2 linked regions of the Homo sapiens genome follow. The protein of the gene in region 2 interacts with the protein of the main gene of each other region in a pairwise test. Each region holds a gene or a part of one and is shown on either strand. Other genes may lie near its edges. The genes, in order: MT1A and GPR50.

Region 1 (3,600 bases), on a different chromosome or scaffold from region 2:
ATGGATTTGGTGTTTTTTTTTTGTCATACTAATAGATTTTATCTTACCAAAGCTTAAGTCTGTGACAGATTCCTGTGGCATTATATCATCTGTCATCACGCTCTTACATTTTTATTTAAGAAACTGACCTGAGGCAGGTGCCTGATTTGCCTTAAGGCACTCAGTGTGTAAGATAATAGGACAAGGTCCCAGCACCCAGGTCTCTGGACTCTCAATGCAATCCACCATCCCAGCTCTGTTGGGTATGGGGTCCCTTATTTCCAAGGCACACAAAGAAAACCAGAGCCAGCATTAAGTCAGCAACTTTTATTATCATTCACATATTTCATTAAAAAAAATACAGTAAATGGGTCAGGGTTGTATGGAAAAAAAATTCCAAGTTTGTGCAGGTCACTCTTTCTATATCTTCGAGCAGGGCTGTCCGGACATCAGGCACAGCAGCTGCACTTCTCTGATGCCCCTTTGCAGATGCAGCCCTGGGCACACTTGGCACAGCTCATGGGGCAGCAGGAGCAGCAGCCTGGGGAAGAAGGGAGAGTGAGAGGTCAGACCAGACTTGACCGGGGACTTCCCTGCCCCCAGAGAAGCCTGGCCCAAGCTCTGTCCCCAGCCCCAGAGGACACTTAGTTCAGGATGGCATGCACTGTCGGAGATGGGAGATAAGTGGTGGATCTTTCGAGTGAGGGTCTTCTGTGAAAAGCTTATCTCCATCTGAGCCCCAGACCTGGCAGAAGGCTGGAAAGGCAGTGACTGGGGTTATGAAGGACAAAGGAAGGCTGGCTCCCCAGAACCACACACTTAGGGGAGGAAAGTCCTTAGGTGTCATGTCTGTGCTTGGCAGGCTGGTGCACTCTTGGCCTCAGTTTGTCTATTTTAAGAACGAAACTTGGGAATCCATCACGTCTAAAGATCTGGCTCTGATCCTGAATCAGTTGCTGGGGAAGGGGATGTGGGAAATGGATCATTGGCCTACTCCTCCATGCCCAGCTCTGGTTTCCTGCCTCTGACTTGGCTCAGCCCCAGATTCCTGGAGATGGCCCCACACTCACTCTTCTTGCAGGAGGTGCATTTGCACTCTTTGCATTTGCAGGAGCCAGTGCAGGTGCAGGAGCCACCTGCAAGGAAGAGAAAAAGGCAGTGAATTTTATACAGAAGATAACAGCAGTTGGTCAACAAATGCTGCCAGCTGAGTGCATTGCCAGGCCTGATAGATAGCTCCTGTCCAACTCAGGGCACCATGAAGCCTAATCTTACTTCTATCTGTAGAGGCTAGGATGGGCTTTATGTCCTTAATCCCGAAAAACCAATAACTCCTGTCTCCCATCCACCCCAGGAACTGCGCAGAGTACTGGGGCTCAGCCTAGCAGTCCCCGACTACCTGGGTGACATGGAGCAGGAGAATTATGAGCCTGAGTCCTCTCGCCTCTGAAATGGGAGGCATTAGAATAGGAATGTTCTAGGGATGATGAAGGCGCTGAGTGGAAAAGCACTAGATCAATGAAATAAATGACTCCACTTAGCTAGAACTCAAAAAACACCTCTACTCCTAGGGACATCTATCCTGTGGCGGGGAAATAGGTATCCTAAGGACCAGAAACCTAGCATCCCTTACCAGTGGCGCAGGAGCAGTTGGGGTCCATTTCGAGCCGCGGTGAGGTTGGAGATCCCAAGCAAGAAGTTGAGAGGCTATAAGGCGCACGTGGAAGGCTTGGTAGGGCCCAGCAGCCAGCGGCTGCTTTTATGGTCAGGGGAAAGAGGGCCGGACGCAAAGGACCCGCCCTGCGCCTGCGCCCGCCCCGCTGAGTCCGCCCAGCCGAGTCCGCCCCGCCCGAGGTGATGACCTGGACTGGGCTTTGCGCAGCAGAAAGGCAAGGCGCACAGTCCACTGAGCTCCCCTGGGTGCGGACCACGGGACCACCCCCTCCCCGCTTTGGGGCCGCTAACGCGGGAGTGAGTTTACGCCCGGGGTACGGGGCGTCCCCGAGGTCCCGGTCGCCTTTCCCAGTTTCCCCGAAGTTGCCTTCCACCCTAGTCCCCGCGCGTTCCGGGAACCCAGCCTTGGCGTTTCGGTCGCCTCCACCCCACCCCTCTCACGGTTTTCAGCTCGGCCTGTCCCGAAGTCTGAGTGCAGCCACAGCCTCCTGCTCCTGTCCCCGGATCGGCGTAGTGCAGAGCGTGGAGCGTGCGGTAGCGAGCGAGTTGTGTGCAGAGCAACCGCCACCGATGTGATTTTCGTTTCTCCTCGCTGTCGCCTTGCCTGTCCCTGTCCACACCTAGGTCCCTCGGACCCACTACTCCGTACACAGTAACACGGGAACACGGGTCGGCCTCTCACTCTCGTCCATTCTCCTCGCCTGAGAGGATGTGGGGGCACATTTGTCCAGGTCCTCCTTTGCAAATAAATCTCCGTGCTCCCCACAGCCTAGCCGGCCACCCCACTACCGTCTGGCAGTTCTGGACATGTGGGATATCCCCAAAAAGGAGATGACTTCATGTGATGTGCTGACCCTGCTTTAAACTAAAAAGCAAGATGGGGGAGGTGGCGGGAAGCTGTAGTCCAAGCTACTTAGGAGGCTGAGGCGGGAGCATCACTTAAGCCCAGGACTTCCAGTCCTGCCTAGTCCACATAGCAAGTCAACTTCTCTAAAAAAATAAAATTAAAAAGCAAGACATCCAGTTATTTCCCTAAAGTACACCTGACTAAGGCATAACATTGAGTCTATACCAGTCCCTTTCTAATCACTTTCATTCACAGCCACCACTGGAGTGACCTACCAGAGGATGAACACACTCTTTACCATGGGATGGCACCAAGTCATTCTTTAGGGATGTGTCCTCATGACCCCAAAAGCTCCCTCTAGGCCCCACCTGCAATAGTGGAGGACACATTTCAACATGAGATTTGGCAGTGACAAAATATCTAAATCATAGCACACATGTAGGATTCAAGAAACTAAGAAGTTGGGTTCCAGCACTATAGCCACTTTTAAGCCTAAAATCCAATGTGGATCTCAAGTTGTGGAGGAAAATCAGAAAATAAAAATAAGGAATGAAGTTTCTGTGCCACGTTTGGCATGAGACTGGAAGCGATCATGTATGGTCCCCACCCATATGGTGTGGCAAAGTGCAGTACCATTTCACAGAAGTGTGAACTCAGTGAGGTAACCTGACTGGCCTGAAGGTGTTCACATTATTAGTGACTCACATTTCCATCCAGAGCCTGGTCTCTAAGCTTGCGGTTTAACCTCCACCCCAGTCCATTTTTTCCAAGGCACACAAAGAAGAACAGAGTAAGATTCAAGTCAAAATTGTTTTATTGTCACTCACATATTTAATATAAAAAGAAATGCAGCAAATGGCTCAGTATTGTATAAAAAAAAAATCCAGGTTGTGCAGGTTGTTCTATTAACATCTGGGAGAAGAGCTGTTCCCACATCAGGCACAGCAGCTGCACTTCTCCGACGTCCCTTTGCAGATGCAGCCGTGGGCACACTTGGCTCAGCCCATGGGGCAGCAGAAGCAGCAGCCTGGGGAAGAAGGGGAGAGTGAGAGGTGGCAGCAGACTTCACCAGGCACCTCCCTGCCCTAATAGCAAGCGTG
Region 2 (4,111 bases):
CTCATCTCAGAAGTGCAGTACACTGGAGTGTAGCAATGCCTGCAAGGTTTGCAAGCTCTCCTTACAGGTTTGTTTGGGGCAGGGGGAGTCTAGTGTCTTAAGTCACTAGAAGGTGTGTTTCGTTTTTTCCTTCAAATGTATTTTGTTTACTTATTTGAATTCAAAATCGCCCCTTCCCACAAGTGAAGGGATCCAAACTCTCGGGGAACCAGCAAGAACAGCCTGATGTGCATCCTACAAAATACTCCACTGCGCGGACGGGCTTTTGACTGACAGCCTCTTTACAGGGCGCACAGCTGTGTGGGGAGGACAGCGGAGCCCCTTCACTGTCTGCACTTACGGAAAAAAATGCGAGCGCGCGCGGCCGGGAGTTCCAGCCAGCGAGGGGCAGTGAGATAATGAATGTGAAAAGCCTCCAGGCGGGAGATTGTAATTCGCGCCGGATTCAGTTCACAGACGCGAAAGCCGCAGGATTGGGGTGGGGGCTTCATTTTCAAACAAGGAGACACATTTCCAGTTTAGGCTTTATAGCTAGAGACAGTGTGTGCAATCTTGGTTTTCAACAGTGTCTGTTTTTTTCGTTAAAGGTATCTGAATGTTGAAGTTCGTCGCGTAACAGGCCCCTACTACCTACCCCGCCTTGTCCGTCCCCCCACCCACCCCGGGGCAAGAGGGCTGCTGTGTCCAGACGATGGCGCTCCCGGCCAGTGCAACCCCTCTCCCCTACTGTGGCAAGAAGACTAGTCTGGAACAAGTTTCAAGGTGTTTACTGAGATTTTGAAAGGCTTCTCGACAGGAGCCGTAACTTTTAGTAGCCGGCAGAAATCCATTCCCGTGACCAAGGTTATTGAGGGAACGAGTGTCCGAATCACGCCCCTTTAGTTTTGCCCGAATATTCGAATTTTCCGTGGTCCCCGCGGAGCGAGATCCTGGGCGCACCGCAGGGGAACTGTGACGCACGGGGACAGAGATCCGCGGTGTGGAGGGCGAGGGGGGAGGCCTGAGAGGGATGGGGTCGAAACGAGAACCCCAGAAGGGCATGGGAAAGGAGAAAGACCGAGAGGAATCCTGACTGAGGCAGGGATCGCCGGTCAGCCAGAGGCTTCTTGGTTTAGCCGCGTGACACCTCCGCACCTTTCCCGCGGCTGCGGCGCAGCTCCTTCAGCCTTCCTGACTGCCCCGTGCCGCTCAGTAGAGAATGCCGAGCATCCCGAGAGGGAGAGGCGTCAGAGCCTCTCGTCCTGAGTTTCCTTGAGAAGCGGGGACCCAAGAGAAGAGCTTTATTGCCTGTTTTACTTTTTCCCAAAGCGTCCCTTGGCTTCCGCCGCCTGGCTGCCGGCAGCTGGAAAGGAGACGAGCTCCCGCTCCCGTTCGCCCCCAAACTGAGGACCGAGTGGCCACCAATGCCTTCCCTAGGTCCCAGGGTGCAGACCCGCTCCCCACTTCCAGAGTCGGGCGCAGGGTACATCTCTTTATGGAGAGTGCAAGACCTGGACCGGACTGAGCGGCTACTCGCAGCTGCCGCTAAGGGAGCCAAGAGGCTCCTGGCGAGAAAGGGAGCGGGGTTAAGTTCCCTAGGGATTAGGGACCCAGATTGGGGGTGGGAGCTCCCAGCAGTAGTCCCCTGTTCCCCGCGGGACACAGAAGGCTCTAGACAGGCAAGGGCATGGGGCGTGGGATGGACCTCACAAGGATACTTGCAGAGGCAAGCATCTAGCGTTCAAGGGGCCACCGGCTATCCCCTATACCCTGCTGGGGGCTGTGGACTGGCTTGGTCTAGCACTGGATCCTATGAAAGACTCTGTGCTCCGGCTCTGCAATCTACATCTCTTTGCCAGGTGTTTGCACTGGAGGAGAGAGGGAGAAGAACTTGCTAGAAACGAATGCACAGGGGCTGGTGGAGGGGGTGTGGGGTGGACTCCGAGCTAGTCATGATGCTTGCAAGGTACCTGGGAGATTGAGAGGCAGGGCAGGCTGGCTAGAGAGGAAGTACATACAAGGCAGTCGGAAGCAAGATGACACCTCAATGTGGATTTGTCCAATAAGAGGGGGTAGCCAAGGGGGGGGTATTCAGGGAGGTCTGATTGGTCGGGGGGAGGGATTTGGGGTGGGGCTAGCCGCCTCTTGAGGCTTTAAAAGCTCATCGGAGAGGGGCGGGATGCTGTCATTTGCTCTCTGACTCTCAGAGAGGGAGGCACGCTTTCCTGGAGCTCCTGGTGACAGAACAGGTGTTTGCTGTCTGGACCTGGCTGCTGATCCTGAGCCTGCTGGGAGATCTTAACGATCCCCAGGAGCAACATGGGGCCCACCCTAGCGGTTCCCACCCCCTATGGCTGTATTGGCTGTAAGCTACCCCAGCCAGAATACCCACCGGCTCTAATCATCTTTATGTTCTGCGCGATGGTTATCACCATCGTTGTAGACCTAATCGGCAACTCCATGGTCATTTTGGCTGTGACGAAGAACAAGAAGCTCCGGAATTCTGGTAAGCCACCCCTTCTTCTCCCTACCCAGTGTGCAGAGACTTGCAACCCCTAGGGCGTTAGTTTTTGAGCTCCCCGAATAGAGAATCTATGGACAGTGCCCTCATATTGAACATCCCTGCTCCCAAATTCCCCGCAAGCCTGGGGGTGGTAGTATTCTGTCCCGGCCCTCTAAACGTGGAGGTTCTCAAGGCCGAGAGAGCACAGAGAATTAGCTTTGGGCATCCAAGTACAAAGCGTTCCCGTGGTGCGCGGCAGCCCGAGGATCCCTGTCCCGTCGGGGCCTGATGCGGAGGGAGCCGGCACCCGAGCGGGAGAGTCAGGCGATTCGCCCGGGGACAGCAAGCCGAGCCGGACGCCGCAAGGGCGGCCGCGCTGAGGCAGCGCGGACCGAACTGACGCGGAGGGAGCAGCGGGGCTGCGACCTGCTCTGTGAAAGTTAAGTTCGCGGCGGCCGCGGCGGCCCTTACCAGAGCGCAACGCAGTGGCCTCTCCCTAGCCGGGCCAAGAGCCCGCTCGCCGCGGCCCTGGGGCTCCAGGACGGCTCCCGGGCAGATCCCGGGCGGCGGAGCACAGACCCCCGCGCCCGAGAATCGAGCAGGGAGGTCTGAGCCCGCCGGAGCCGAGCTCCGTCCGCCCGTCCCAGGGCGAACGGCAGAGAGAGGCAAGCGGCGGGTCGGGCACAGCAGGCGGTGGCAGCGACGGCGGCGGCAGCGGAGATCCCAAGGTCCGTAAGCGGGGAACTGGGGGGTCGCAGGGCGGGCCGGCCAAGAGGCTTGGGAGCTGGGCGTTGCTGGGGGTGGAGGGATAGAAGGCAGCAAAACCGAGTAGGGATTGGCGGGAGGGCGACGGGAGAGCTCAGAGGCGGCGATGGGGGACTCAGAGAGGCTGCAAAGGGCTGGGGTCTGGGAGCCGCAGGCGGGACTTCCCCCGCTGCTAGCCACTGCCGAGCGGGAGGAGGCCGGGGGCCGGGGGCCGGCGGCGAGCAGGGCAGGAGGGAAGCGTGGGAGGATGCCGGGCGCTGCGACCTGTGCTGGGGGTGGGGGCGGCAGACACTGCAGAGCAGCTAGTCCGGCTTACAGGTTGGGCGGGAGAGGGCTCTGGAAGGGAGGGGAAGGGGCAAAGGCGCCCAAACTCCGAGTTCAGGCCGGGGGAGGGAGGGGCGGCGCCTGGAATTTCCACCGCCAGATTCTCGATCGGCTGGGGCTAGGAGTGGGGACCGAAGGGGGTCTGAGAGGGTGGGGAGACCAGCTGGATTCTCCCGGGCAGGGCGTGGGGGAGAGGTGGCGGCCGGGGTCTGGGGGATTACTTTGCTTGGGCAAGGAGTCACGAACACTGAACAAGTTTAAAAACGCACTGACTGGCACACAGTCATTAAAAGTTTTCTTACAAAGTCTGGTGGGTGTCTCCGATTTCTCCTTCGTCTCCTGGAATCGTGGGGCCATACACTAGGTCTTCACCTTCACCCCCGCGGTGCGGTCCCGAGGTGCAAACCCACGGAATCCTGGGGGCGACCTGCGAAGCCCATTTTATTCCCTTTAGATTTCTTTTCTTTCTTTTTCTCCTTCTCCTTCCTTCCTTCTATAATTCAAATAAAGGCTTTTATGGTTGTTGTGGTTTTGTTTTTA

What was found.
Region 1: the proteins of GPR50 (region 2) and MT1A interact in binary tests that used the Homo sapiens proteins (3 or more experiments, as listed by UniProt).

Annotation. Positions count from the first base shown.
Region 1 is NC_000016.10:56,636,779-56,640,378, reverse strand, and holds MT1A (metallothionein-1A), read right to left. Parts: upstream 1,714-3,600; 5' UTR 1,641-1,713; coding exon 1,613-1,640; intron 1,116-1,612; coding exon 1,050-1,115; intron 521-1,049; coding exon 429-520; 3' UTR 292-428; downstream 1-291. UniProt on the Homo sapiens protein: Metallothioneins have a high content of cysteine residues that bind various heavy metals; these proteins are transcriptionally regulated by both heavy metals and glucocorticoids.
Region 2 is NC_000023.11:151,174,424-151,178,534, forward strand, and holds the start of GPR50 (melatonin-related receptor), read left to right. Parts: upstream 1-2,160; 5' UTR 2,161-2,298; coding exon 2,299-2,485; intron 2,486-2,953; exon of another isoform or gene 2,954-3,413; intron 3,414-4,111. UniProt on the Homo sapiens protein: G protein-coupled receptor that plays a role in numerous physiological processes including regulation of energy metabolism, neurite outgrowth or cell migration.